Linked DNA regions of Homo sapiens. The protein of the gene in region 2 interacts with the protein of the main gene of each other region in a pairwise test. Each region holds a gene or a part of one and is shown on either strand. Other genes may lie near its edges.

Region 1 (15,675 bases), on a different chromosome or scaffold from region 2:
TATACTCCAGCCTGGGCGACAGAGTGAGACCCTGTCTTAAAGGGAAAGAAAAGGAGGAAAAATAGATTTTTGTCAGGAGTGCTGTAAAACTTGGTAGTGTTATTATTTGGAGAAGGTGATTAAACCTATCTAGGTGACCTTGGATTTATCACAGGTGCTATTTCCTGGGCCTAAAGATTGCCTAGTCTTTTTCCCAAGCTTTTGGTCAAAAAGCAGTGAGGAGAAAGAGCATTGCTTCAACCAGATGCCTAGAAAGGGGTGAGAAAGAAAACAAGAGCAGCATTTACTGTATGCTTGCTGTGGGCCAGATCCAAGTTACGTGATTTACATATTTTATATTGTTTGATCCTTACAACAAGGCTATGATTTGGCTATCTCAGGCTACATTTAGAGATCAGAAAGCTCAAGAATAAAGAATATGTAAGATAGGTGTGAACCCTCATTCATTCATTTAATAACAGTACAATCATGTGCTGCATAACAACATTTAGGTCAACTGTGGGCCGCCATCAGTAAAGTCACAGGGCAACGCTTTACTCACATGTTCGTGGTGATGCCCGATGTAAACAAACCTACTGTGCTGCCAGTCGTATAAAAGTCTAGCACATACAATTATGTATAGCACATAATACTTCATAATGATAATAACCATGTTACTGGTTTATATATTTACCATACTCTACTTTTTATCTTTTAGAGTGCAGTCCTACTTATTAAAAAAAAAAAAAAAAAAGGTAGCTGTAAGACAGCTTCAGGCAGGCCCTTTAGGAGGTATTTCAGAAGAAGGCATTGTTCTCATAGGAGATGACTGCTCCATGCATGTAATTGCCCCTAAAGACCTCTTCCAGTGGGACAAGATGTGGAGGTAGAGGGCAGTGATGTTGATGATCCTGATCCTGTGTAGGCCTAGGCTAATATGTGGGTTTGTGTCTTAATTTTCAACAAAAAAGTTTAAAAAGTTAAAAAATTTTAAAATAGAAAAAAGCTTATATAATAATATAAAGGAAGTATTTTTGTACACTTATAGAATGTGTTTGCCTTTTAAGCTAAGTGTTATTACAAAGGAGTAAAAAAGTTAAAAAAATTTCAAGTTTATAAAACTAAAAAGTTACAGTGGCTGGGCATGGTGGCTCACACCTGTATTTCCAGCACTTTGGGAGGCCTAAGGGAGAATCTCTTGAGGCCAGGAGTTCGAGACCAGCCTGGATAACAAAGGGAAACTCCCATCTCTATAAAAAATTAGCCAGGCACAGTGGCATGTGCCTGTAAGTCCCAGCTACTCGGGAGGCTGAGGTGAGAGACTGCTTGAATCCAAGAAGTGAAGGCTGCAGTGAGCCATGATCATACCACTATGCTCCAGGCTGAGTGACAGAGCAAGACCCTGTCTCAAAAAAAAAAAAAAAAAAAAAGGCCGGGCACAGTGGCTCACGCCTGTAATCCCAGCACTTTGGGAGGCTGAGGAGGGTGGATCACGAGGTCAGGAGATCGAGAACATCTTGGCTAACACGGTGAGACCCCGTCTCTACTAAAAATACAAAAAAAAATTAGCCGGGTGTGGTGGTGGCTGCCTGTAGTCCCAGCTACTCGGGAGGCTGAGGCAGGAGAATGTCGTGAACCTGGGAGGAAGAGATTGCAGTGAGCTGAGATCATGCCACTGCACTCCAGCCTGGGAGACAGAGCAAGACTCTGTCTCAAAAAAAAAAATTACAATAAGTTAAGGTTGATTTATTATTAAAGGAAAATGTTTTAAAAATAAATTTAGTGTAGCCTAAGTGTACAGTGTTTATAATGTCCACAGTAGTGCACAGTAATGCCCCCAGGCCTTCGTATTCACTCACCACTCACTCACTGACTCACCCAGAACAAATTCCAGTCCTGCAAGCTCCATTCATGGTAAGTGCCCTATACAGGTGTACCATTTTAAATCTTTTATACTGTATCCTTACTGTACCTTTTCTATGTTTAGGTACACAAATACTTACCATGTGTCACAGTATAGTATCAGTACAGTGACATGCTGTAGTTTTATAGCCTAGCAGCAATAGCTATACAATATAACCCAGGTGTGTAGTAGGCTAGATCATCCAGGTTTGTATAAGTACACTCTATAATGTTTGCACAATGACAAAATCCTAACGACACATTTCTCAGAATGTATTTCTGTCAAGCAATACATCACCGTACTAGTTACCAGGAATACAATTGTGAATAAATAAGTAGAAGTCTCTACTCTCGCAGAACTTACCCTCAAACGGGGCCCAGTTTGAAGTTTCTCAGCTGTCAAAGGGCAATGAGGGGATTCTCATTCCATTTTATACCACTCAGTTTCTGTCTCTAAGTACTGGCACCTTCTCACCCCAAGTTTCCTAGGCTCTTCACTTTAAACCCCCTATGTAGGGCCCAGAGCCTCTTCTCCTCCTCCCGCTGGACCTCCCCTCCTGGGGCTGACATTCTCCTCCTCCTCGTAGAACTCCCTTCTGGGGGATGACATTCTTGAGTATCCTGGGGTAGAAGATTGTTGTAACCTTTTTTCCCTCCCAGAGTGTGATTATCTGAGCAGAGGAAGCCTCCAGGAAAGCTGCATTACCAGATGAGTCAGCTGTCATCACAGCCATTACCTAATGCTGAACTGGGATGGGTTCAGGAAGCTGAAGTCAGTGAATATAAAACTAAGACTCACAGGTTTGGAACTCAAGGTTGCTGGAAGCAAGAGGCTGGCGGTGTTTCCACAGCTATTGCCAAGTCTCTACTTGTTCACTCTCTCCAGAGAACAGAACAGGGAGGTCTTCAAAAGTTCCATTTTAAAAGAAGCTGGTGTTTCTGAGAAGGGACTCTCCCTTTACAGTTTTTCTCAGTGAATGCTTTAGCACGAATAGACTACTCGGGGCAGGATGGAATAGGGGGAGGTGAGAAGAACAGGAGACAACGCTGGCTGGAGAATGGTAGGTAAGAGGAGTCATTAATAGGAGAGTCCCACAGACCTAGGTTCTCGTGCTGACTACCTAGGTTCTTAAGCTAATGTCCCAACACTGAAACCTCTTAGTGGGTTCCTTATGGGAAAGACCATTAAGATGATAACAAAATTGGTCTGCGTGAAGAATCAAGACACAGATACCAAAGGAAATAGAACACATCGGCACCAGAGTTGCTGATCTGTATCGCCTTGCTTAGAAGTATTGTTGCATGTTGGCCGGGCGCGGTGGCTCACGCCGGTAATCCTAGCACTTTGGGAGGCCAAGGTGGGTGGATCACCTGAGGTTAGGAGTTTGAGACCAGCCTGACCAACATGGTGAAACTCTGTCTCTACAAAAATACAAAAAATTAGCCTGGCATGGTGGCGCATGCCTGTAATCCCAGCTACCAGGGAGGCTGAGACAGGAGAATGGCTTGAACCCGGGAGGTGGAGGTTGCTGTGAGCGGAGATCGCGCCATTGCACTCTAGCCTGGGCGACAAGAGCAAAACTCCATCTCAAATAAAATAAAATAAAAAGTATTGTTGCATGTGCTAAATGTTACCTACCCCATGCAGCCTTTCTTAGTAAACTTCCTGGTTCATGGTCAGATTGTAAGGATAGTATGTCTAGTCTCTGTGTGGCAGAAAGTAAACCCAGAAAAATCCACTGCTCATTTCTGTAACTTTTCACTCTCTGAATCCGTGGGCTAACCGACCTGCTTTTCTTACCTGCAGTTGCTTCTTCTGAACTAGCCCTTTCTCTGCCCAGACATGGGCTTCCCACCCCTATTCCCTCAAGGTACTCTTCACTTAGAAGTTGCTTCCAGACTCAGCAGTAAACAGACAAATCTTCAGGTCGCCATTTCCTGTTATCAACTTTTTGGGGGCTTTTTCCTGGCTTCTCTCTACTAACACCTGAGTCATAGCATCCTAAATCAACTCACTGCATTCTCTTTTCCTTCTTCCCAGAATAAAATATCAGAGTAAGTCTTCCCTAATCATGCCTTATTTATTTTTATTCCTTTGTAGGTACTCAACTCATTATTTTGAAAACTGGGAAATAAAAGGAAAGAACTAAGTCTCTCCCTTTCTTATACAAACTGTACCACAGGGTAGCTGAATAGTTGGTAAGGGCAAGTCTCTCTTTAGAGAAGTATTTCGCTAATGAGTGAGAAGGGATAATAGAATTAATAGGCTAATGGGTCTAGGTAATGATTATCCATGCTTCCAACATCACAAAATAGAGACAGACATTATATGATGGAAGTATATACCACCACTTATGAATTAATCTTGACAAAATATAAATCTGATTAAACTTCTAGAACTAATTTAGGAAATACAGGGACAGAGGATTCTATAAGAATGCAATTAGGAAAACTCAGACTTCAGAAAAAACTATGGGGCAAATAACTGAGATTCTTGAAGAATTTCAAGATGAAAAGAGAGGTATGGGGAGCCCACATATTAAAAGAGACTTTAGAGGAATGCCAACCAATTGCAGTGTATGGACCTTATTTTGACCCACATTCAAACAAATACACCATAAGAAATTTATGATAATCAGGGAAATGTGGACATTGAGTAGATTTTTAGTAATATTAAGGAATTGTTCATTTTGAGGTGGGGTGATGGTATTTTAGTTATAATTTTTCTTTAAAAAATCCTTGTCCTTTAGAGGTATACGCTGAAATATATATGGATAAAGTCTATGATATCTTGGATTTCCTTCAAAATAATCCAGAGGATCATGGATTCTTTCTAAGTATTGGCATTCTCTCACCCCAAGTTTCCTAGGCTCTTCACTTTAAGCCCCATATGTAGGTCCCAGAGCCCTTTCTCCTCCTCCCCCTAGAATTCCGTCCTGGGGTTCACATTTTCCTCCTCCTCTTGGAACTCCCTTCTGGGGGGTGACATTCTTGAGTATCCTGGGGAGGGGAAATGAGTGGGAGTATAAATAATGCAAGATTGGCCATGAGTAGATAATTGTTTAAGCTAGGTGATAAGTACATGGGAGTTCATTATACAGTTCACTGTTGTATATGGTTGAAAAATCCACAACAAAATGATAAACAAAATTGTAAGGTAACCACTGGAAGAATGTATCTGGAATGTATAACTTCCCAACCAAAAGAGGGATCAAAAATGAATAAGAAACAACTGAATGAAAGCCAAGAAAAGGGAAAAAGGGTGTGTGTGTGGCAAGGCAGTGGCCGGTGCGGGGGTGGGGTGTCTAGAAAGCATTTTAAGGAGAAAACATGAAATAAGATGGCAGAAATACATCCAAATATGCCACTGATGAAATAGACATGGATTAAATTTTTCTATCAAAAGACAGATTGGGTTAAGAAATTAAAAATTCAAGCCAGAAACAGTGGTGGATACCTGTAGTCCCAGCTACTTGGGAGACTGAGGTGGGAGGATTGTTTGAGCCTAGGAGTTCAAAGCCAGCCTGGGCAACATAGCAAGACTTCATCTCTATAAAAGAAAAAAATTGGGAACACTTATTCTATTTCATGGAATGAAGTGTTGCCTGGTTCAGAAAAGAAAATTCAACTATATACTTTTTATAAGGGAAACTCTTTATAAAAAAAAAGTGAAGTTAGAAAATGAAGAGATAGAAAACTACTAGAGTAATGAAATGATCATAAAGAGAAATTAGGAGTAAAGCAGTTCAATAAGATATGGGATAGAATTAGCAACAAAGTGATCATCAATGACCTTGACAAGAACAGTTTCAGTGGCACAATGGGAGCTAAAGCCAGACTGCGTTTGTGATAAGCTGTACGTGGAAGAGGAAAAAGTGGAAAGGAAGAGGAAGGAGCTGAAAAAGCAAGTGAAGGGAACATATTTTCAGTTAGGGGAGGTGGTCTACTCATTTATTGGCCAGTTATTTATTGAGCCTGTATAAATACTGATGTGAAAAAGCCATGGGAGAAGGCGAAGTAGAAGAAACAGGTAGGGGGGGAAGATATTCCTGGGGAGGAAAGATGCTGAACATGATGAGACCCCAGGTACCAGGGGGAAACATTAGCAGCAGACAAGAAGAAAACACATTATTTTATTTTATTTCTAATTTATTAATTTGTCATTACACAAACAATACATAAATGCATATTCAAAAACATCAAACATTACAGTTAAAGCTAATGCACGCTACCAAACTACTGTTGACAGTTTGGTTAGTATCCTTCCAGACCTTCTCTCTATATAATACACAAATATGTACTTGTAGAAGTACACTATACAGTATTTGTGTGTGTGTGTGTGTGTGTGTGTGTGTGTGTGTGATGTGATTTAACATCACTAGTATCATATGTATTACAGGTATTGTCTTTCAATTTTTCCCCCAAACTTTTAACATTGTCTCCTGGAGATCCTTCCATGCCGGACATGTAGGACTCTCTCTTTTTCATTGATACTTAATACTTCATCATGTGTACCATAGTCCATCCTCTTGATGAGTATTTTGGTTTTTCCAATTTCATAGTATTACAGTAGCTCCCCCATCATGGAGGATATTTTCCAAGACCCTCACTGAATGCCTGAAACCATGAATAATACCAAACCCTCTATGTACTATGTTTTTTTATGATCTGATAATAGAAATGACTAATGGGCATTATAAAATGGGTATATAATGAGTGTATACATTGTGGATACACTGGACAAAGGGATGATTCCTGTCCCAGGCAGGATGGAGAGGGATAGTGAGAGATTTTTATTATACTATGCAGAAAGGTTTGAAGTTTAAAACTTATGTTCGTTTCTGGAATTTTCCATTTAATATTTTTGTATTGTGGTTGACCTTGGATGACTGAAACCTCAAAAAGTGAAAATGCAGATAAGGGGGTCTACTGTACAAGCAAAGGTGCAATTGACATCATTGTACAGGCTATCTTGTGAACACATGTATGTTTCTTTAGGACATTAAAAGTTGGAATTGTTAGGTCACAGGGTATGTGACTTTTAAAATTTAATGGGTGATACACAATTGTCTTTAAAAGAGGCTGTGCCAATTTGTATGCTCACTAGCAATGTATTCCTGTTTTTCCACACCCTTTCCAGCTTTTGATTTGTATGCACGCTAAATATTAGTTGGATCTGAGATGGTTTCTTGTGTTTTAATGTGCACTTCCCTTATTTTGCTGAGATTGAGCTTCTCTTTATAACCTATTTGTAAAGTTCTTTGCTTATGTGCATTTTCAAATGGACAGGGTATATAGCTTCATAGCTTCCAATTTCTAAAAGGGAGTAACCAAAAAGTAGAAGACTAACTGCTAGTCTAGCTAGAATTAATTTTTGTGAAAGATCTAACTTTATATTTCTTCTAAATTGTTATGCTATCCCATACTATTTGTTGAATAATCCATTTTTTCCTTACTAATTTGAAATGTCACTTTTATTACTTACTCAACATATTATTTGTGTTTCTGGATTCTCAGCTGTATTAGAGATTTATTTTTGGTATCAGTCACCTGAGTTATTCTTAACTTGGTTCATTAAATGGTAGCTGATTTTGTCAGCCAAGATAATAAGTGTCACTTGTTGCTTATGAGACAATAGACAATATAATTCATGACACATGAATCCTATTCTAGTTAACTTTGATTTAAATCAATTTCATTATCTACAACTTAGAGTATTAAAAATGTGTAAACTTTTCTCAGATTAGTTCCTCTTTTTTAGGGAATACTTCATAGGCTCGATGTCGAGGTGGAAGGCTTTTCCCCTCCTTCTAAAAGTATTATTTGATGTTAAAGCTTTCTGGTGATTTAAAGTTGTTTCCTGGCAATATCAAAGGATTTTTACATGGGATGGCAATATTACTGTTGATTTATAAAAACCTTTCATTTAACAAATGATATAAGGTTCACAAACTATAACATATACTCTGAATAAACAATATGGCACTTTAACTTTTACACTTACACTGGACTGAGCTCATTGGAGCACACAAATCATGTCCCATTCATCTTTCTATCCCCAAACATCCAGTACAGGTTGCAGCACCTAAATTGAAATAGAATTAAATTGCATGTCAACATTTTTTTTATAAAATAAAAAAAAGAAACCTAAATTTCTTGAAAACATCACTTTTAGGGTTTTACAAAGTCATACATGTTTCTTTTTATTAGCCACTGACCTGTTATTATTTCCATCTCAAGTGTGGGGAAAATGTTCCCTTGCTGTCTCTGATCTTCCTCAGGTATGATATGACCTATCTATAGATACATTGCATGCCTGTGAAATGACAGCAAGAACTGTGATCCGGATAACATTTGGATTGCAGCAGGCAAGAGTATTTTACAGTTGTTATATGGAAATATTGTAGGCATGCAAAAGAATGGAGAGATGAACTTAACTTTTTTATGGAGAAGTTGAACTGTGGCATTTGCCTTGTTTTAAAATTCAGTTGTTTTTATGATCTAAGTTAGCACACCTTTCCCTTCCCTCCAAGGGGATAAATATGGCTTCTGTGGACAATGTTGTAGTCTGTAAACTTAAATACTATGGACCCATGACAGTAGACAATGGGAAAATTCCCCAAACTGCCTAGTCTATCAGTTTCCCTGCTGAGAATGAAAAATAAAGCTAACTCACTCACCATCCAGGTATGCTGAACAAATTCAACAACTAAATGGACTGCGCCAGTGCAAAATACCAGCGTCTTACTTTGCCATCACCAATCTGAAAATCTGTCTTATTTTTCTTATTTGATGATTCCATGGCGGGGTTCGGGGGGGTGGTGGGCAAGCAAGAATGTCTGTGAACTTTAACTTGCTTCAGAGTGCCTCACTTAGCATTTTCATCTATGAACACAGCATGTCATACCAATTGTACTCCACAAAAGATATAGTTACAGTAGCACTTGTATAAAGTAATCCTTGCAACCTATGAAGGAAAGCCATACATTTAAAGGGATCTTGCTGTAGAAATTCTGTGAACTGGTACAGAAATACAGGACAAAGATGTATCCTGAAATATTGAAAAGGAGTAAATGGGGTGCAAGTATACATCACTAAATAATAAACTATTACTATTGCTAGAAAATAGAAATATGGATTATTAAGAGGCTTGAAGCAGAAGGAGGTGGGAGAAAAGGTCTGGTTTTGGATAGGCAGGAGACTTAGAAAAAAGAAGCCTGCAGGACTGACCTATGTCAAAGAATAAAAGGCTAAAGCCTAGCAAAACCTATTCTGCCTTGGGCTGTCAGTACCTACAGTGGGGGCCAGAACCTGTATTATCCTTTCCAGGGAGCAAGGAATAGATTTTAGGGAAAGGCTTTGGAATCAACATCCTAATCCTAGTCACCATAAAAGGATTCCATTTAGTTTACCTTTAGGGTAGAATTGAGAGACAGGCATAGTGACAGCAAAGGTTCCATTCCCCAACCCTTTTGTTAAATTCTTGAAATCCCTTTAAGGAAACAAAGACTTTCATTTCACAGATTTATAACTGTTGGAAGGAAAAGACCGAGTCAAACTTTCAAGTATGAGTTGGGACTCTTTAATCTTTTTTTGGAGGGACAAGAAAATAGGCAGCTGGGTGCGGTGGCTCACGCCTGTAATCCCAACACTTTGGGAGGCCCAGGCGGGCGGGGGAGATGACTTGAGGTCAGGAGTTCAAGACCAACCTGGCCAACATGGTGAAACCCTGTCTCTACTAAAAATACAAAAATTAGCCTGGCATGGTGGCACACGCCTGTAATCCCAGCTACTCAGGAGGCTGAGGCAGGAGAATCGCTTGAACCTGGGAGGCGGAGGTTGCAGTGAGCCGAGATCTTGCCACTGCACTCCAGCCTGAGCACAGCAAGACTCTGTCTCAAAAAAAAAAAAAAAGAAAAAAGAAAAAAAGAAAATAGGCACCTGATACCTGACACTGGGAATGGGATGTTCATTGTGGAGAGGAAAATGGTACAGAAAGACCCAAGACAAACTTCCTTCATGACCTTCACAAAATTGCCTATGTAATTTTGCCCTTTCATTTATTTTCCGGATTGTCATCCCTCCTAAATTATTTCTCAGCTTCCAGTTTCAGCTACTCTAACCTACCTCCCATCTGCCACTGGAATTGTGCACATCCAGCATAATTTGAGCATAGTATCCCATTGCTTAAAACCATTCAATAAATCATTCTTGCTTTCTGAATAGATGCCAAAATACTAGGTCAGTGGGGAAGTCACTGCCTGCCTGTCTCCAATGCAATTCTGTGGCTGCCCTAGGAGCCTTGTTTATACTTTTAAGCCATTGAGTTCTCTTTTCTTGTGCTTGGAACACCCTTCCCTCTGGCTCTTATGACCTTCAAGACTCAGGTGTCATGTTTTTGAGGAAACCTACCCTGACAAAACCATCCCTGACTGTACATAGTAACAAGTATTCCTCACTGCATTATCAGTTGGCTTATTATGTCCTCAAATTGTCAATTTTGAGGGCTGGGTTTTGTCCTTTTCATAGGATTATTAAAGAAATGTCACAAAGTGCTTGCCACTGAGCCATAAAGCTTCTTTTAAAAATGTGACTTCAAATCTTAAAAATTGTTTCCAGACAATTAGCTATTTCTGGTTCTGCAAAGATAAATTTTCAAGAACAGAGATATTCTGGTTCTATTAAGACTTTTTTTTTTTTTAAAAAAAGGTCCATGAATTACTGGAGTTTGCAACTTGGAGAAATATAATCATTCACCTGTGAAAATTCTTGTGAATAATGGCAGCTGTGATCCCCAGTCACTGGAGGCTTGATTATAAAACGTTATCTCAATACTTCTAATTAGCATAGGATATTATAAATAGAATTGGAAAAATTCAGCTATTTTGGACAATCAGGAGTTAAGGAAACTGTTTATTTAATGCCTCCTAACCCCTACTATTTGTTTTTGGTGTGGCAAGCTGTGAGATCACATCGGAACAAACTAAATTTTATTTGGGGAAAGTTAGGTTTGAATTGTAGACAATTACCGTATCAGAAAAATTTCTACTTATGATTTACCGGCTAAATTAAAACAGAAAAGCTTATGTGGGACCTTGCTCTATGGGCATTACACTGACAGAATTAGATAGATGGCATTCCTGTAAGACTGTGCCTCCAAATTGGGATCTCAATCAGTTAATATTTACAACTATTTGGAGCAGGAGACTAAATCTCCAAAGCTGAATTGGAAGTTACTTAAGATCCTAAACAATCAGCTGGGGGAAGGGTTGACAGTAGGGATAGTTTGGATTTTGAGGGGAGGGGATGATGGGAAAGCAGAGGGCAGACACCACAATAATTCTGCATTTTTGAACAATGGACCATGAGTTGAGTATCTTCTCCTGTCGTTACACTGGAAAGCTTATTATTTAAGGCTCTAGATACATACTGCCAAATTACTTTCTAAAAGTACACAGGAAAGCCTGTCTTTCTTTCTATGTTAAGTCCTGCTACTTAGGACACTTATTACAATTCGCCAAAAACATTAATTTGCATTTCTTAGGTTACTAGAGGTTGAACCTTTAGAAACTGCCATTTATCTCTTCTGTGAACTACCCATATTTTCTCTCCTTTTCTACTGTTTTTCTTAATATAAAAGTAGTAATAACTGCTGTTACCATTTTAAACCTTATTATTCATTTCCTTGGAGACTATTACTTTGTTTATGAAGTGTTTTTCCAGCCCCAGAATCAAAATGGAATCTATTTTCACAAAAATCCCATTTCTAAGACTAGTTTTTCTCCACCTGTATTAAATATCACATGTCACAGTTAGCACTGGAGGGGCACAGCCAGCAAACCTTTTCGGTTAACAGTCCAACAGTGAAGTTTCACATTCCATTAAGTATCTCACCTGTAGCAGCTCTACTTGGAATCTTACTACACATCCTTAGGGTTGCTTACTCAAGCCTATGTACTTAGTTCCTTGATTTATAATGTTATTCATTAACATTTTGTTCAATGTCTTGCAGCACAACTAGAATAGAAAATATTTGGCAATCTCATGTACATCCCAATTTTATGCCTTGTTTGTTTGTGGCTAATCTGATTAAATTTTTACTTCAAATAAGTCTTTTAACACGGAGAACTAACTACTGGTTCTCATTAACTCTGATTAGCTAGCTGGCTACAGATGCAGTGCATGTTAATTTCTACAGGCACCTTTCTGAATTCAAGTAAAAGTTTTGGTAGACAAGGATTTCCTACTTAAGTATCACTAACATAATATGAATATTGAGTACAAATATTGCTCACTATTTTTGCATTCTTTAAATTGTTTTACTTTGAAAATTTAAGAACTATCAGTAAGTCATTATTAACAGGTCTTTAAGGAGTATTTTGAACTGTGAAAATACAAATCTAGTCAAATTTTGAACACATATAGAGCCAAATATTTCAACAAAACTGCAGTTTAATTTCAGAAAATGTTAAAATATATATTTATACATCAATTTCTGACATACACTTAATGTGTTAGTATACACAAAATGATGCTTTCTTTTGAAACTGTATTTATGAAATGTACATTTTAATTTAAATACTCAGTATACACTGCACTTAATCTGCATGTTGCATTTATTAAATACATTAAAATCTGCAATGTAACAAAACGTTTTCTGCATACGAAATTCAAAACACCATTTTAAATGAACAAAAGATGGCTCACTTTTTTTTTTTTTTTTTTTTACAACTAGTGTATTGTACACTAGCTCAGCTCCACCAAACTACCTGTTCGTTCTCTTTTATTTGACATTGTTCACAGACTAGTACATATTACAATAAGAGTGCTGGATAAAAACATGAGGTACGAAAGTGGTTCAAAGATTATAGGTCATGCAGATCATGCTAGACAGTAAAGAAAATTGTGACTGAGAAAACACTAAATAAAAATACATAAAGAATGTGCATTATAAAAAAAAAAAAAGACAAAAAAAAAAAAACAACAAAAAAAAACCAAACTCCATTACACAGCTTTGCTTCTTTGGTTACAAAGTAGGTTGAACAATTTCACAGCTTTTTATTCCCACCCGAAAAAAAAGTCATACGAAATGTTGAAAAGCAGAGGAATCGTGGCAATTTCTCTTAGAAAGTAGAAACAAATGAACAAAGTTTTCTTCATCAAAATAGCCCAATTATTTATCATATCACAATAACTGGTGACTACCTGTACAGTTGCACTATGTTCTTCATACTTACACTATACAAAATTTACATTCAAGCTGGGTCTTTACTACTGAAAATAAATACCATAAGTAAATTGCCATTAGTGTTAGAAATATGCCAGGATTCTTTTGTTCAATTATTGCCTAAACGTTTTATCTATTAAATGCAATCCTGTCTTTCACTTCCTTTACTGATACTTATAATTATTCAAAAAAATTAAAAAAGTTCTGTGACATTGTTCATGTACATTATGAAAATAGCAGCCCTGTAATAAATAAAACACAAATAAATGAAAACTTATGTAGGCAAATGTTACTGAATCAGAAAGAAAAGTGGCTCTTTAGATGAACTGTTATTTATAATGTGATAGGAAGGCTCAGGGTAAATCCATGGGTAATAGGAAACATGGGAGAGCCACCAAAACTCTTAAAGACCCCACTCATGCGCACCAGGTAAAATGCAGACTTTGCTCGCTTTAATAAACCCCATCTATTATTCTCCTTGTGTACTGATGACATAGAACTGGACATCAACAGCGCTGCATGACATCTCAGAGAGAGGAAAAGCTCTTGTAGAATGATTGTCTAATACTGAAAAGGCCAAACACACAACCAAAGCATGGCTACTTGCTTTCGTATAAAGTGGAAAGAACACCAGTGGCACACAAGGATAGATTGCTTTCAGTTTTTTTCTTAATGAGGCTTAAGAAAGCTTTATGCTGAGGAGACATTCGGCTGCTGTGGAGGTTGCGTTGGCTGCGGAGGCTGTGCTATCACTGCTTGCTGTTGAGAAGTGCTACCAGGATTGGCCTGTTGGGTTGGGAGTTGGGATAATTGATCATTGCTTGAAAGAGATTTTAACAGTGCATTTTCTCGTTCAAGTAAAGAGTTTCTTTCAACTAATTCTTTTATTTGTTCCTTTAAAACTTCCACTTCTTCTCTTACTGCATACATCAAATGGCTTTTCACCAGATCCTGTGAAAAACAAAATTAGGAATGTCAAAAGAGTGAAAAGATAAAGGTGGTGCTATCTGGTTCTGGCCTACTTGGTGCTAAGTTTTTATACTAGTTTTCCTGCTCTTGCTTTTAATGTTTCTGCTTTATCTTGACCGAGCCTATGGAAGATGGGTTGGAAAAAATCCAGTTCCCAACCAGAGCAGTAAGCCCAGAATTTTCTTTTCAAAGTTTGGGACGATTTCCAAAAAATACTAGCTTCTTAAATTGTCAACTAAGCTTAGAATTAAAAAAAAAAAAAGTTTAAAATCACATGCTTAAAATGGTAGATAAAGAGAACAAAGGAACAATATTCCAACGGAAAGCTGTTTGATGTTAAACTAGTCATAGTACTGCTTTAAAGTGATCTGTAATTTTGGACTTTAAAATTTTGGTATTTTTAAAAAAATAGTTTGAGACTAACAGTCCTGTAAGGTCTCACACCGGTAATCCCAGCACTTTGGGAGGCTGAGGCGTGTAGATCACCTGAGGTCAGGAGTTTGAGACCACCTTGGCCAACATGGTGAAACCCCGTCTCTACTAAGAATACAAAAATTAGCCAGATGTGGTGGTGTGTGCCTGTGCTCCCAACTACTCAGGAGACTGAGGCAGGAGAATCACTTGAACCTGGGAGGTGGAGGTTGCAGTGACCCAAAATCATGCCACTGTACTTCAGCCTGGGTGACAGAGCGAGACTATCTCAAAACAAACAAAAATACCAACTTTTTTTGTAGAGACGGGGTCTTGCTATGTTGCCCAAGTTGGTCTCAAACTCCTGGCCTCAAGTGATCCTCCCACCTCAGCTCAGGTGCTGGGATTACAGACACAATCCACTGTGCCTGGCCTACTTATAGCTTACTTACAGTCTACTTCAATCAGACCTCCAGCTGTTTTTGCTTTAATACTCTTTTTCACTCTAAAGTATTTTCAATGCTGAAATATCTGGGGAACATATTGTCTTTAAATATGTATGCCCCCTCACCAATGGCCCTTATCAATGATAATGCATGAAATGTGAGATATTCAAATGGAAGAAATATCTACTTAAATAGTATTTCTAGACTAAAAGTTCTCAACGTTCTAGCATCTTCAACTAAATCTCATTATCAAAAAACATGATTTGGTCATCTTTGGTTTAAATAACTTATTTGTTTTCTAAAACTGACAAAAGCTAAGTGTTCCATACAACCAACAATCTATGAAATGGGAGAACTGTAAACTTTTACTTACCATTGCTTGTTCTATTTTGTTGTCAATGGCTACAACACCTCCCCCAGATGCACTGGAAAAAATTAGAATATGTTATTATTCTAAAAAATTTAACCTCCCTTCCAACTCTTAAAAGAATGTAAAAGACATTTGTGTTTCACTTAAAACCAAATATACAGTAATTTAAAATAGCTTATTCTGTTCTGACAATTTCAGTACTCAAAGCTCTCATTTCTAAAATGAAAGTCTCAGTAAATAGATGATTTCTACAGGTCCTTTGTAGTGCCAACATTTCTAATTTGCCTGTAATACATGTATGCTACTTTAAAACTAACTCTCAATTGTATTAAGAATTTCTCTGTTCAGTGGTTTTAAAAGGATACATTTTA
Region 2 (16,711 bases):
GCGTGAGCCACTGCGCTCGGCCAATTACTTGCATTTTTAGGAGGCAATGCTGAAGAGAAAAATATAATGTTGTCTGCAATATGCATAACCTATGCAACCATACCATGATTCACCTTAAAAAGCTTACATGCATTCTAATGGGAAGATGATTATTTATGGTATGTATAAAGAAAAATAGTTTATAAAACACCACCATCTAAATTCAAAAGTTCAACCCGATTACCAAAGGATTTATATAAAATATAGACTCTACATTTAAATAAATATAAAATGTCTTAAAAACCTTGAAATATTTACTAAAATATATTATAAAACAGGGCTTGTAAAGTCATCCCTACAGAGGCAAGGGAGATGACCTGAGGAAGTGAAGTACCTAGGTAGGCACAGTAGCAAAATGGAGACCACATGCCTCATAGAAAGGGGCAACCTCTGCACAGCATCCAAAACCTGAGATAGGCTCAAGGGACACCAGATTGGATTCTTGAAGAGAAGCCTGGAATCCAGATCTGTGCACGAGTCTCCTAAACCTTCCATGTTGAGACAATTTGTAGACACAAACTAAACACATGTATGGGACACATTTGGACTATATACCTTGTATTTTTATATTTGCTATGGATATGTCTCCAAGCAATTGTATGTAACACAAGTATTTTCATGTAAAATACTTCCTTTCTTTAGTTTCAGATTTTTTTTTCCAAAATAGGCCCAAGAATACAATAAAAATTGTTACTAAGAGTCATAATACCCACTTTGAGCACTTTTACAACATTCATTCATTTATAATTTATGTTTAATTTTCCCAGATTGTTCACCAAATGGATAATTAGTTCATAAGACTGCTGCAACTAAATTATTAAAATAATATTAAATTATAATTCTAGTTTCTATATTGTAACCTAATTTTTTTATTTTAGGGAAAATATAAATCAGAAATAAAAATACAATGGCTTATCAATTAAAGCTCTAATAATGACCTATATGTATTCTTTGTATTCTTACTAACTTCATGGTTTTCAGTGTTTAAAACTGCTATCCTGATTATGCCACAGTTCTATGTACTTAACTGACATACTGAGGCAGTCCATAATAGAGCTTCAGCTTTAAAAAAAGGTTTAGAATTTTTTGCTATTGTAATTGAGAGAACCCCGCTTTTAATAATGATGTATTGACCTAATCACCAGAATGATAACAAAGAGACTCAGAGTCCTGAAAGAGTCAGTCTCTACTTATTAAAAGAGTCCACAATAGCAAATTTCTAATGACCCTATGAATGGCAGTGAATAAGTGATGGTGGCAAAGAAAAGGTGTTATTCTTATGCTGATAGATACTGCAAATAATAGTCCTTTCCACTTCCCAACCACAGAGGTAGAGACAGGTAAAAGTCAGGCCAATATTATTGGAAAGGAGAAATTTAAAGGAAGCAGCACCTATCTCCAGCTCTTCTAGAGATTTTTTGTGTGTTTGAGATATGGGAATTTATATTACACTTATCTATTCAGTGGTTCTTAACCAGCAGCGTATCAGTGTCCCAAGAAATGTTTTATTGTTGTTGTTGTTGTTGTGTTGTTGCTGTTAGAGGCAGTGTCTTAATCTGTTGCTCTGGCTAGAGGCACCACCATGCCCAGCTTCAAGGAAATATTTTAAAACATACATGCCCAGTAATATTTAATAGTAAATATTAGATTTACCATATTAAAATCTTCAGGGGATATCCTAGACTTAGAGATTTGCTTTTAATTTCCCCAGGTTACTGCCATGCACAATTCTAACTGCGAACCAGCACAGTTGATAATCACTTCAGTCTCATTTCTCACCCACGTGGCAAATTCCCTTTATCGTTTGGGATTTGGCCGAAAAGAGGAAAGAGCAAAAGATAGAGCCATTCACTGAAGACTTCATTTACTTTTCCTGGGTAGGGGTAGGGAAGAGACTAGTAAGCTCAAAATCCAACTTGATTTTACTATTTATAAGCTCCGTATCTCCCACCTGCCCATCAAGACATTCTGGACTTGAGAGTAGAGTTTAGATGCTTATCTGAGTGGCTGTTTCTGCCAGAATTGAATAATGTCCATTAATTATGTGTTCTTCTCTCTGCTGAACTGTGTGCCGCTTCATCACCACTATTCACTGCCAACCTGGTTTCCTCAGAGTCTTACCAAAATTGATCCCTGGGCAATTTCACAACTCACAAACTCTTTCCCAAAGTAAGAATAATCATCCCCAAAACTGAAGCGATCTTTGTCTAAACATATAAATTGAAAACAAACAACAAAACACACAAAAACCCTCTCCACAGTATTTTCCCTCATTACCTAATTTCCAAATTAGCTTGTGCATTTCTGATTGCTCTCCTTTTCTTCATTTTTCCCTCTTAAGCCTTTCCACAGAGGAATCACTTTCAAATGAAATCACCTTCACATACAACACTTTCAACAGCAACAACATGTACATTTATTGTGAAATTCTTTAATTTTCTTTGACATTTAAAATAAAGCCTATTTATAAGGGACAATTTTACTTTCCTGTGTCACTTCACACTGATTAGAAAAAAAGTAATTTAGTGGAAAAACACTTAACTATTACCTTTCCCAAATTCAGTTGTCATGAATTATAAATTTATTGTAATTCATTTGTTTTTATAGTTATTTACCATAAGTGCATGAAAAAAGGCTGTTCCCTATAATGCTTCTTTAAAAGTTCCAATATTTAAAGTAAAATCTTAGACAGTTAAGGCATTTCAAAATATTTTCATTCAAGGAATGTTTGAGCTTCCAAATATGAAAAATTGACCCTTACATGTGTCAATGTTAAAATAAATGCATTTCAGATAGTTTGAAAATAACATTGGTTGACCTATACCTTGCTGCATTCTTCAATATTTGTACCATGTGAAAGAAGTTTTTCTATCATGGATGTATCTTCATTATACACAGCGTAGTGCAGAGCAGTCCTTCCAAAGAAATCCGTAATATTTGGATTGGCGCCATTTTGCAGCAGAAGAGTTGCACAAGCCTCCTGCCTCAGTTGTACAGCCTGTCAGTATTAGACCGAGAAACATGCAAATACTGAAAAATCAAAATAAACACTCCGTAGGATTTCCTACTAGTTATATGGTGGTATTCCAATGAGATAAATTCATTTTATCCTATGTACTTCAACCAAATCCATCTCATGCTCAAAGAGTCAGCTACTATATACCTTGATCAGAGGTGTCCTGTCTTCACGGTCGCAGAGGTTAAGCTCACATCTTCTGGACACCAGGAGATGTACCATTTCCGGTTGGCCAGTGGCACAGGCCAAATGTAGGGCGGTCCTGTGAGAGTGACAGGACTTTTTAAAACATGTAACTGTAAGCATTAATTAGCATGTCATTTCTCTGTCTTCAAAACAAATATGTAATTTTCTTGTGAAGAAAGTACAACATTTGTTAGCGCTTATTACTCACCACATTAATGAAAGAGCAGGCTATTTAATAGAAAAGCCTTGGCTTTTGGATTCAGTTTAATTGGGGCTTAAAATTTACTGTAAGCTCTGTCACTTAGCTGTTATTTAGCCTTTCTTTGCTTCAATTTCCTTATCAATAAAATATATAAGAGAATAGTAGCTAGCCCACAGAACACTGCTGTGATGCTTACATAAGAATCTATGCACAGCATTTAGAACACTTTCTAACACAAATAACAGCTCAATAATTTTTAGATATTACTACCTACAAAGACATTTTAATTAAGTAAAATGATACAATCATATCTACATTGAGGTATCTATTAAAGATTAGATGTATCATTGTATTTCAGTCATTCTCAGATGCTCATTTTCTCACCATTCTCTTATATAAGCTACTATTCTCTTATATATTAACATCTCCTGACATTGGAATACTGTTTACAATTAATTGTTTATTACATTTATAACTGGCAACATTTTAAACATTATCTTATTGATATATAAAGTAATGTGGCATCACCCAATCCGTGATGCCTTACATTAAGTGGGATACAGTACATAGAACAGGCAGTTCTACTCATATAATTGGCACCTAAATAAAGTACTGTGGAAAAAGAAGGCAAAAATAAAAAAACAAATTTTTAAAACAAAGTAATTCTCACTTCAATTTAAAAAAAAAAATAATCCAAAGAAAACTCAGGATTCAAATGAATAGGTATGGCCCATTTTTTTCAATACTTACAGAATGTTATGTAAATTAGGTATTTGCAACGATTAATAGTAGTATTTGAGAGTGTCATAAGTTTCTGAAATGGCAGTTAAAGGTTATCTTTCACTATTTTCTAACTTCAGAATTGCTTTTGTTTAAAAAAAAAAAAAAAAGGAATAAAAGATCCAACTGGGATTAAGTCCTAACGCTTCCATTTTAAATCTCAGCTTGCTCAGGCTGGGCAGGTAAACATGAAGTTGTTAAGGGTGGAAGAGTCCTGAGAGATGGTGGAATCTGTCTGCTACATAATAGGTATTCAGGTTATGCTTGATGAATAACTGGATTGAAAGAATGCATACATACAGTTGGGAAGTTTATTATGAAAAAAACTATAAATTAAAGCAGTGCTTTTGGAATAGTGATAATCACTTATATTTGCTCATTTTCATTTTCATGAGGACACTGATAAACTAAAATAATTAATTTAAAATTGTTTCCTTATATGTAATAAAACTATAATAAAAACCTATTTATGTACTAAAATCTATGCATAATAAAATAATCAAGCACAAATAAAAATATTCCCTCTGCCTCTGAAGAGGCTAAAAGTTCACAGAAGATACCAATAAACAAAAAAATAAAAATAAGGCCAGGCACAGTGGCTCACACCTGTAATCCCAGAACTTTGGGAGGCCGAGGCACGGGGATCACCTGAGGTCAGGAGTCTGAGACCAGCCTGGCCAACATGGTGAACCCCGTCTTTACTAAAATATACAAAAATTAGCTGGGCATGGAGGCGCACACCTGTAATCCCAGCTACTCAGGAGGCTGAGGTGGGAGAATCACTTGAACCTGAGAGGCAGATTGCAGTGAGCCGAGATCATGCCACTGCACTCCAGGCTGGGCAACAGGGTGAGACTCCATCTCAAAAATAAACAAACAAACAAAGACATAAATAATAAAATAAAATAGAAACTGAGAATTATTTTTTCTTTGCAAGATTTATATTTCTTCTTTTTCCAAGGATAATTTCATTAATAAAAAACATTTACTAGAAGTTTTAAACATACTGATCATTTATACATCACAGATAAGAGAAAATATCACAATACACCTGCCAGAAAAGAAGAAATGTTACATTTTGTACACATATTTGGCTTACAAACACCATAGATTGTTTGTGTGTATGTATAATCAAACCAACTTTTTTTCAGAGTACATCTTCACACCTCAACATACATCTGTATCTACTGACATCTGCAAAGGTCCCATATTGTCCCATCCTATGGATGCACTGAAATTTATTGATAAATTTATAAAATTTATAAAATCCATTATAAGGGGTTTTCCAAATACATTGCTATTTTAAGCAGTGCTGAGAAAAACAAATTGCATGTATCTCTATTTCCTAGAGATATTTTAGTATAATGGAATTGATGGGTGAAGGGCACATACATTTTTACAGTGTGATACTTACCAAAAAATTGTCTATTTGAAAAGTCATCAGAAATGTAAACTTTCAACAGCAGTATATGTACTGCTACCCTTTACCCTCACAAACTTGTGATAGAAAATAGTATTTCATTCCTTTTTTAACTTAAATACCTTCTCCTCCCAGGAACACTAAATATTTTTTCCCATGTGCATAGGTTGCTTGAACATCTGAAAAATAAATGCTTTGCTCTATTTTAAATGAGAGTTCTTGTTTATTTGAAGAATTCTCTGTAAAATGAAAATCACTTTTTTATCTAATATGTATATACACATATTGTCTTTTGTTAATTTTTTCTTATAAACTGGATTTTTTTTATTTTGCTAAATCGACCTTCAGAATGTGTGCTTGTGATATTTGTAGGAATATAAACATGCATCAATATAAGTAGGCATTTGTGTTTTTTTCTGTTATCTTTCTTATTTTGTGCATTTAAAATTTTTAATCTACATTCCATAACGAATTTATTTCTGTGACATAAAAATCTAGCCAGATTTCTCCAAATAGTTAGCAGGCACTTCATTTATGAGTAATTCATCTTTTCCTACTAATATGAAATGTCACCATTATCCAATTCTATTAGATTGGTGCAAAGGCAATTGCGGCTTTCGCCATTACTTGTAATTGCGGCAAAAACCGCAATTGCTTTTGCACCAACCTAATAAATTCTTACACATATTGGTGTGTTCCTGGATTTTCTAACCTGTTCCATTCACTGATTTGTTGTTTCAGCTGTTAGTAAATAACTTGTGGAAATTAACAGCACATTTTCATATCTAGAAAGGCAAGTCTTTTTTGACTCCATTTCAAAAGTTTTCTTGATGTCGTCACAATAGTAAAAGACAGCATGAGTAATTCAAAAATGTTAACACTTTGATAACTTTATTTGGATTATGTAAAATTTATAAACACAGAAAGAGCTCAGAACTTTAGAAAAATGTGTCTTTCTATTCAAGAACACAGACCATCTTCCCACTTCAAAGTTTCCCTCTAAGGTCCCTCAGTGAAAACCAAATTGACATAGGTGTCCATTGATATCAAATAAATATTGGATTTTTATCCAAAGAATTTTTAGCCAGGAAGTTGATATATTATGGAAATGATTTCTCTCATTATGCACCTTTCCATAATGTATGTAACATTATGCTTTAAAATGTGCACGTTAAAAATAAAACGCTGTACATGCTGAATTTTATTAGTGAAATCACTTTAAAATGATTTATAAAGAAGCAGCATGGTGAGTGATTGGAAACCAGCTGAAGTTTTGTTTTTGTTTTGCTGCTTGTGAAAATGACCTGGGTGCTCGCCCCCGCCAAGGTTTCCACATCCCAGGTGCGGCTGAGCCTGCCAGGAAAGAAAGTCCAGCCCCTTTGGTGACAGGACTCGCCCCCCTCACCTCTGCACCCCTTTCCCCCACCCCATTCACCCCCACCCCTCACCCCCACCTCCAGTCCTCTATCCCATTGAACCCTCACCCCATCTCCCCACCCCACACCGTCCACGCCCCTACCCCCCAAGCCTTCATTCCGTCCACCTCAGCCCATTCACGCCCCCACCCCATGCACCCCCTACTCCCCACTCCCATCCCCCAACTCACTCCACACCCCGCCACCCCATATACCGCCACTCCCCAGGCCCCGCTCCACTCACTCCCACCCCAGCCGGGCACCCCCTAGCCCCCGTCCAAACCCCGAGCCCCGGACCATCCGCCCCGCAGCCCTCAGCCTGGAAAGGGGTACTTCTCCACATCCACAGGCCTCCTCCCGCAGCCCCGGCTCCCGGCCCCCATTACCTTTCCTTCCTGTCTCTCTTATTGGCGTCATAATACGTGAGCAGAAGGTACTTCAGTTTCTCTAGATTACCATGTAAGACAGCTCTGTGGATCCTCTTCAGATGATACGGTTTAATGGGGTATTGGGGAAATGCGAAGCCATCCGAGCACAAGCGCTCCATGAGGGTGGGCCACCTCTCCCGCTTGCCGTCTTCCATAATCGTCGGCTGCAAATTGTAGCCTGCAGCCGTATTTCAGCTCGCCTTCGGGGATCGCCGCCTCCGAAGAGCAACAACGAGCAAAGCAGTCTGTCCACGGACCTCCGCACAGACTCTCAGCGCCTCCCGCCTCTCAGCAGAAACGCCCAACAGAAGGGTTAGAACCAGCGAGCACGCGCACCTTAGCCGGCCCTGCCCAACAGGCCCGAGGCAGAGAAACCGCCCTAGCAGCTCTCGCGCGCCCAGTGCAGGCGGCGGTTGCTGCGGAGGTGCCGCGGGAGGGCGGGGCTCCCTGGAGCGCGAGGCGCGCCCTGCCCCAGGGCCTGTTTAACTGTCGCCCGCGCGCTCTTCTCTTCCACAGGCTCCCGACGCTCGGAGTCCCCCGCGCTGGGCCCTCTGCAGCCCAGGGATGGGGTTGAGTGGTGCTTCTCCGCCTGGTGCCACCGCTGGGCCCACAGCCCCACTTCGCCACTGCGTCGCCCCCGGGGTCCGCGCTGATGGGTGCGAGGCGGGAGGACGGGATCCGGGGTTGCCACAGCTGCAGCCAGCGCACCACTTGTAGGCGGCACTGCAGCTCGGGCTCCGGCGGGGGCTGGCGGGGCTCCCGTGGGATGGCCTCCTGGGCCCTGAGTGCGCCCCCATCCGGCCGGAGGGTGCGCGCCTCCTGCACCCCCGGCGGAAGCCCATGCCCGGCGCTCCTGCCGCAGACTGCCTGACTTGCCGCGGCCAGGCTGGCCCCGGGGTCCGCGCGGCTGGAGGCGCAGGCCTGGTCGGGGATTCCCAATCCTCGGGGACCCCTGCTCCATGTGCTGGTGGCGGCTGCAGCTGCAGCGCCCGTGGGCTGACGTGGCTTCCCGGAGCTGCGGCCGGCCGCGCCCAAGGGCCCCACAGGCTGCGCTGCCCTTGCCAGCTGCTCCTGACCCGCGCCCAGAGCGCAGGACCTGACGCTTGGCACTCTGCAGCCACGGGGATGAGGCTGAGCGCCTGTTTTCGGCCTCGTGGCGCCGCTGGGGCCACAGCCTGACTTCACCACCCTGTCGCCCGAGTCCTGTGATGGGCAGGTGTGAGGAGGGGCAATCGGGGTTCCCAAGGCTGCTGCCTGCATGCCACTCCGTGAGGAAGTTGAAATACGTGATCTCTAAGATTCCTCCCAGTTCTTCACCTCATGAGACAAATATAAATCAAGTAACATTCGCTATTGTGATTAGAAAAGCTGCATTTACACACGTTAGCCACTAGATGGGGACGTGCGATTGTTACAATGCTGAAGGTTTCCCGTATTTCTTTATTTTTTATTTGGCCGCTAGAGGGCACGCCTGCACTGCACTTAAAGCTGACTATTAAGGAAAGACAAAGGAATTCTTGGATTTTTCCATTTTCCTCATCACCTGTGCTTATCAGAGAATTCCAGGGGCAAGCTACCCTTTCCAATTCATCACTAATTTATAAACAAAATTCTAAGGAGTAAGGAATGCTTCTTACTTACTTCCTATAACATATTTAAGAATGAACGCTCAAAATAAAAGTAATTTATTTAAAACGTGTTGAGTAATTATAACTGCAAAATTTTTGCTCATGTTTTTCATATGCTGTTCATTTGCAAATTATTAGAAATCTACATATTCTGTTCATCTCAGCATTATTTATAACAGGGAAAAATTAGACACTAGCCAAAAATCTAAAAACAGGGAACAGTAAGGAAAAAACAAATGGTTCTTTTAATCATCATCACTAAAAGTGCTTGTGACTTAAAATAATGACATAAAAGATGCTTCTACGTTGTTGAGTAAAACATCAAGATAAATTTAAAATTCTATTTCAAGCTTAACTATATTCATTTAAAAAGAGAAAAATTTTAGAGGGTTTATCTTGTTGGATTATCAGATGTTATTTTTCTCTTTTTAATGCCATATACTTTTCAAATTTTCAGTGGGCTGGTATTACTTTTGTATTTAAAAAAGAAAAATATAAGGAAAAAGAAACCTGTCACACACTTTTTAGTGGATTTTACTGATCAGTCATCTCTGTATTTCTGGCATCAGCAAACTGAGCCAGAAACTCAGTGCCTCCCATTTCTTTCTTTTTTTTTTTTTTTTTAGACGGAGTCTTGCTCTGTCGCCCAGGCTAGAGTTCAGTGGCTCAAACTTGGCTCGCTGCAACCTCTGCCTCCCAGGTTCAAGTGATTCTTCTGCCTCAGCCTCCCAATTAGCTGGGATGACAGGTGCCCACCACCGCACCCGGCTAATTTTTCTATTTTAGTAGAAACAGGGTTTCACCATCTTGACCAGGCTGGTCTCGACTCCTGACCTTGTGATCCACTGGCCTCGGCCTCCCAAAGTGCTGGGATTAACAGACCTGAGCCACCGCGCCAGGCCAAGTGCCTCCCATTTCTTGTATTTACCTTTAAAACTCCTGCAATGAAGGACTCCCTCCTCCCTCATCTAACCTATTATGTGTGTGGTGAGTTCTGACTATGATATCATTCCTGATGTGAAACCGAAGTCTCTCTCTTCTAAGTCCATCCATTGGTTCAGTTCTGTCTTCTGACAGAGTCCACGCCAGACTTCACATTTCTCCCAATCGTCTTTGTCCTACAAGGGCTTTCTATTCTTCAAGCTAAAGAGATACCAGTGATTCCATTCGTTCATTCAGTTAACGTTTAGGGGCCACATCTTGTGCTATGTCCTGAGATTTGCCAATGAGCAGAGCTCAGAGTATTGAAAAGACAAACACATACACCAGGCATTTTACTATGCTGTGTTGTGTGCATGACAGGAGCACACAGGGCATCCAGGCACCAGTGAGAAGGGCCATTCACCAGACTTGAGAGGTCAGCAAGGGTGCTCTGAGGAAACACCTTCTAAACTGAGAGCTGGAAAGAGTGAGACAGGAAAGCAGTAAGAGGTAGCGTTCTGAGGAGGAAATCTCCGAGGTGGGACAGGGATGCGTGTGGAGAGAATGCCCTTCCCATCCCCACTCTTCATGAAGTCTCTACTCTGTCAGGGTCTCTCTGCCCTGTGAGCTGCTTGAGGACAAAGACTGTTTTATAAAAATTTTTATTTCCTCCCTCTGTCTTCCTTAAACACCTAGCCCAGTGCCTGGAACATAAGAAGCCATAATGAATTTTTGTTAGATGAGTGAAGAGTGCTGAGTAGAGCAGAAATGTCACATGCCTCAGTTTAAATATGGGTCATCAGTTTTCTTTCTTTTTTAACATAGAAGTCAAGACTTGATGATCTCTTACAGCTTCGAGATGCTATTAAAGATATAATCATCCTCATGTATTTGAGCTTTGTTTTCACCCATTATGTTATGACTGCTGTCCATTGTTCCATGACACAATTCTCCATCTTTCCTCATTTTCTTCCATTTCAATTAACTCATTTATTTACATGTGGGAATGGAACATACAACGTAAAATCCACAAGTAAGACTTCCCAGATCCTCAGCTTCTTTCTCTGGCATTAGCCACTGTTTCTACTTTCATGAGCATCTGCTATGGTTTGAATGTATCCCCTCCAGAAATCAAATATTACAAATGTGATAGTATTAAGAGGTGGGGACTTTTGGAGGTGATTAGGCTATGAGGGCTCTGCCTTCATGAATAGGATTAAATATGCTTAGAAAAAGGAATGATGGAGGAAGTTAGACTCCTTTTGCCCTTCAGTCTCCTGCCATGTGAGGACACAGCACTCCTCCTCTCTGGAAGATGCAGCCTTCAAGGCGACATCTTGGAAACAGAGACCAGACACTCACCTGACAATGAATCTAATGGCCCCTGGATTTTGGACTTCCCAGCCTCCAGAACTGTGAAAAAACCAAATTTCTGTTGTTTATAAATTACTCAGTCTATGGTATTCTCTCATAGCAGCCCAAAACAGACAAGACTGTAGGAAATCAATTTGTATTCAGCACATCAACAAAATTCTTTACAAATGGGACTCCCCCCAATAGGTGGGTGTCACTAAAGAGAGGTGCCCATAAGCATGAGACAATGACCACGTGGCATGAGCAACGAACTACGATGAATGAGCACGTTACCACCACTAAAGACAAAACTTACATGACTAGATGACAACAAAATAATTTCTTATAATGAATTTCTCATTGTATTTTTTCTTAACCTTCCCTCCATTTAGTCAGGAATCTGGCTCTGACTCACACCTGAAGGACAGACAAGGACTTTTGTTTCCAAAAGCATAAACTGAAAGGAGAACTCGCAGAGTCTACAGAAAAGAGAAAAGACATTTGTCAACAGGGAGTGTTTATCTTTTTTAACTGGAGGGAGAGAGCAGGGATGAGGAGAGGAGATGCCTTCGGTATTGGAAAAAAACAATATTGTAGAGTTTTCCATCCCGGTACTAACAAAATTATAAAGGCCAATAAGAAATAACTGATAGCAATAAAACAAGGAAAGGGGCATAGCCTAATACAGTAAAGAAACTGGTGACTCAAAGAGAGAAAGGAAAAGAACATTCTGGAGCAAAATAGAGAGGGTCAGCATTTAGCTCCTAAGTTCCTCTTCCATCCTCCAGCCCCACCCTCCACATCCACCTCCAAATCCGGTGATTTTGAGCATAGTGAAGCACACTGACACTGAAGGGTGTCCTTATACGATCCTTCACTTGCTGGTGACTGGTGGAAACAGATGCTGGGGAGAAACAGGAGAAACAAGGTGGAGGGACATCAGGGTGCACTTCCTCTAAGAGAAGTCAAGGCTACACATGGAATGAGGAAAGCAAACCAATGCCCAGGGGAGTCCTCATGGTACTGAAACAGGAAGAGCCATCTGTTGCCCAAGCATTCTAACCAATGCTCAGAGCCCTCAGCCGCCCTTTCCCTCTACTGTCTCCTCATTCCCTTGGGCTACCAGGAAAAGTGGAGATGTTAATGGGCTCCAATCAAAGGCCACCATGAACACATCTGTAGTTGAAGAAGTGAGTTATTACTGGTTAAGTGAGGGAGAATACAAACTACAGGGAACAGTGGGGTGTCTCACTAAGAGGACATCAGAAAGGACTTAGAGGATTTGGGGTTGTGTTAGGCAATAATCTGGGAGAAGGGTTTAAGGAAATGGGGCTTTGTTCTGAATTGGGTGTTGTCAGGAAGTGGGGGTAATTCTAGCATAGCAGGGTATCTTAATAAATCTTATGTAGAAAGATGTAAACCTGTATTAAAGCCTTAATGGGTTAAGGCTATAATTGGTAAAGAACGTTAAAGCTGTAGTTGGTGAAGAAACAGTAGTTACTCTTCTTAGCTAGAATAGAGACATTGGTCATTTGTGTGATATGAACAATGCTCATGCTTTGCTCATGCTCAGACATGATTATGAAGAGGTCTTGTTTTTGTCTTAAGTATTGGCACAAAATGATATGGTATGAAGCAGATGTTCTATGGAATTGTTTATGCTCACAAGAGAACATCAACATCCATCTGTGGGTGCCAGGCAGCTCACAGCATCGCCAACTCCCGGCAGATAGGACCAGGTCAACTCCTGGCTGCCAGACACACCTCTTCTCTTTCTCAGAGGAACACAAAATACCCAATGCTCATTCTGTAGCTCAACAGGAAAACACATTCTCAGGTGAGCTGGAAAGAAAGTCGCTCATCTAATAATGACACAATTTTAAAAGACTGGTCAATTCAACTACATCAAAGACAAACAAAACAAAATTTTTTGCATGGCAAGAAAAGACTACCACCACAGTCAGAAAACAAATGAAAGAGTAGGAAAATAGGTTTGCAACTTATATCATAGACAAAGGGGTGCTATCTCTCATATACAAATAGTTCTTACAAATTTAGGGGAAATAGACCAACAATATATTGAAAAAATTAAAAAGATACGCATAGAGATTTCATAGGAAAATAATTGGAAGTTGATCTTAAACATGTGAAAAGTTACGCAACATGGCTCATAAGAAGATAAGTGTAAATTAAACATATTTCTATGCTCTGTTGTTAGGTGCATACACACATGCAGGATTGTCATGTCTTCTTGGAGAATTGACTCCTTTTTCTTAGGTAATGTCCTTCTGTATCTATGGTAACTTTTATTGCTCTTTAAGGCTGCTCTGCCTGAAATTAATAGAGATATGTTGGGGGTGTTTTTGATAAGTGTTAGTATGGTATATCTTTCTGCATCCCTTTAATTTATGCAGGTGCATCTTTATATTTAGAATGTGTTTCTTGTAGACTACATATAGTTGAGTCCGACTTTTTAATCTACACTGACAATCTCTTTTATTTTATTTCTGTCTTCCCACCTTTTATTTTAGGTTCAAAGGGTACGTACGTGCGAAGGTTTTTTTTTCTCATATGATTTTTTATTATACTTTAAGTTCTAGGGTACCTGTGCACAACGTGCAGGTTCGTTACATATGTATACATGTGCCATGATGGTGTGCTGCACCCATTAACTTGTCATTTACATTAGGTATATCTCCTAATGCTATCCCTCCCCCCTCCCCTCACCCCATTGACAGGTCCTGGTGTGTGATGTTCCCCATCCTGTGTCCAAGTGTTCTCACTGTTCAGTTCCCAACTATGAGTGAGAACATGCGGTGTTTGGTTTTCTGTCCTTGTGATAGTTTACTCAGAATGATGGTTTCCAGCTTCATCCATGTCCCTACAAAGGACATGAACTCATCCTTTTTTATGGCTGCATAGTATTCCACGGTGTATATTTGCCACTTTCTTTAATCCAGTCTATCATTAATGGACATTTGGGTTGGTTCCAAGTCTTTGCTATTGTGAATAGTGCCACAATAAACATAAATATAAAGCATGTGTCTTTATAGCAGCATGATTTCTAATCCTTTGGGTATATACCCAGTAATGGGATCACTGGGTCAAATGGTATTTCTAGTTCTAGATCCTTGAGGAATTGCCACACTGTCTTCCACAATGGGTGAACTAGTATACAGTCCCAGCAACAGTGTAAAAGTGTTGCTATTTCTCCATATCCTCTCCAGCACCTGTTGTTTCCTGACTTTTTTAATGATCGCCATTCTAACTGGCATGAGATGGTATCTCATTGTGGTTTTGATTTGCATTTCTCTGATGGCCAGTGATGATGAGCATTTTTTCATGTGTCTGTTGGCTGTGTAAATGTCTTCTTTTGAGAAGTGTCTGTTCATATCCTTCGCCCACTTTTTGGTGGGGTTGTTTGATTTTTTTCTTGTGAAATTGTTTAAATTCTTTGTAGATTCTGAATATTAGCCCTTTGTCAGATGGGTAGATTGTAAAAATTTTCTCCCATTCTATAGGTTGCCTGTTGACTCTGATGGTAGTTTCTTTTGCTGTGCAGAAGCTCTCTAGTTTAATTAGATCCCATTTGTCAATTTTGGCTTTTGTTGCCATTGCTTTTGGTGTTTTAGTCATGAAGTCCTTGCCCATGCCTATGTCCTGAATGGTATTGCCTAGGTTTTCTTCTAGGGTTTTTATGGTTTCAGGTCTGACATTTAAATCTTTAATCCATCTTGAATTAATTTTTGTATAAGGTATAAGGAAGGGATCCAGTTTCAGCTTTCTACATATGGCTAGCCAGTTTTCCCAGCACCATTTATTAAATAGGGAATCCTTTCCCCATTTCTTGTTTTTGTCAGGTTTGTCAAAGATCAGATGGTTTTAGATGTGTGATATTATTTCTGAGGGCTCTGTTCTGTTCCATTGGTCTATATCTCTGTTTTGATACCAGTACTATGGTGTTTTGGTTACTGTAGCCTTGTAGTATAGTTTGAAGTCAGGTAGTGTGACACTTCCAGCTTTGTTCTTTTGGCCTAGGATTGTCTTGGCAATGCGGGCTCTTTTTTGGTTCCATATGAACTTTAAAGTAGTTTTTTCCAATCCTGTGAAAAAAGTCATTGGTAGCTTGATGGGGATGGCATTGAATCTATAAATTACCTTGGGTAGTATGGCCATTTTCATGATATTAATTCTTCCTATCCATGAGCATGGAATGTTCTTCCATTTGTTTGTGTCCTTTTTTATTTTGTTGAGCAGTGGTTTGTAGTTCTCCTTGAAGAGGTCCTTCACATCCCTTGTAAGTTGGATTCCTAGGTATTTTATTCTCTTTGAAGCAATTGTGAATGGGAGGTCACTCATGATTTGGCTCTCTGTTTGTCTGTTATTGGTGTATAGGAATGCTTGTGGTTTTTGCTCATTGATTTTGTATCCTGAGACTTTGCTGAAGTTGCTTATCAGCTTAAGGAGATTTTGGGCTGAGACAATGGTGTTTTCTAAATATAAAATCATGTCATCTGCAAACAGGTTAATTCCTATAAACCAAGCTGACCTAATAGCCATCTATTTGGCTATTTAAGGTTAAATATTGTTTAACCTTAAATATGACATTTAAGGTTAATATTGTTATGTGTGAATTTGATCCTGTCATTGTTATAATGTTAGGTGGTTAATTTGCTCGTTAATGGATGCAGTTTCTTCCTAGCATTGATGGTCTTTACAATTTGGCATGGTTTTGCAGTGGCTGGTACTGGTTGTTCCTTTACATGTTTAGTGCTTCCTTCAGGAGCTCTTGTAAGGCAGGCCGGGTGATGACAAAATCTCTCAGCATTTTCTTGTCTGTAAGGGATTTTATTTCTCCTTCACTTATGAAGGTTAGTTTGGCTGGATATGAAATTCTGGGTTGAAAATTCTTTTCTTTAAGAATGTTGAATATTGGCCCCCACTCTCTTCTGGCTTGTAGAGTTTCTGCCGAGAGATCTGCTGTTAGTCTGATGGGCTTCCCTTTGTGGGTAACCCGACCTTTCTCTCTGGCTGCCCTTAACATTTTTTCCTTCATTTCAACTTTTGGTGAATCTCCAAGACAATTATGTGTCTTGGAGTTGCTCTTCTCAAGAGTATCTTTGCGGTGTTCTCTGTATTCCTGAATTTGAATGTTGGCCTGCCTTGCTAGGTTGGGGAAGTTCTCCTGGATAATATCCTGAAGAGTGTTTTCCAACTTGGTTCCATTCTCCCCGTCACTTTCAGGTATACCAATCACATGTAGATTTGGTCTTTTCACATAGTCCCACATTTCTTGGAGGCTTTGTTCATTTCTTTTCACTCT

The links.
Region 1: the proteins of ANKRD36 (region 2) and TSC22D2 interact in a two-hybrid assay, tested with the Homo sapiens proteins (one study listed by BioGRID).

Annotation. Positions count from the first base shown.
Region 1 is NC_000003.12:150,456,760-150,472,434, reverse strand, and holds the end of TSC22D2 (TSC22 domain family protein 2), read right to left. Parts: intron 15,360-15,675; coding exon 15,308-15,359; exon of another isoform or gene 15,303-15,307; intron 14,060-15,302; coding exon 13,799-14,059; 3' UTR 6,013-13,798; downstream 1-6,012. UniProt on the Homo sapiens protein: Reduces the level of nuclear PKM isoform M2 which results in repression of cyclin CCND1 transcription and reduced cell growth.
Region 2 is NC_000002.12:97,104,670-97,121,380, reverse strand, and holds the start of ANKRD36 (ankyrin repeat domain-containing protein 36A), read right to left. Parts: upstream 8,229-16,711; 5' UTR 7,642-8,228; coding exon 7,445-7,641; intron 3,318-7,444; coding exon 3,203-3,317; intron 3,040-3,202; exon of another isoform or gene 3,038-3,039; coding exon 2,864-3,037; coding exon of another isoform or gene 2,858-2,863; exon of another isoform or gene 2,432-2,857; intron 1-2,431.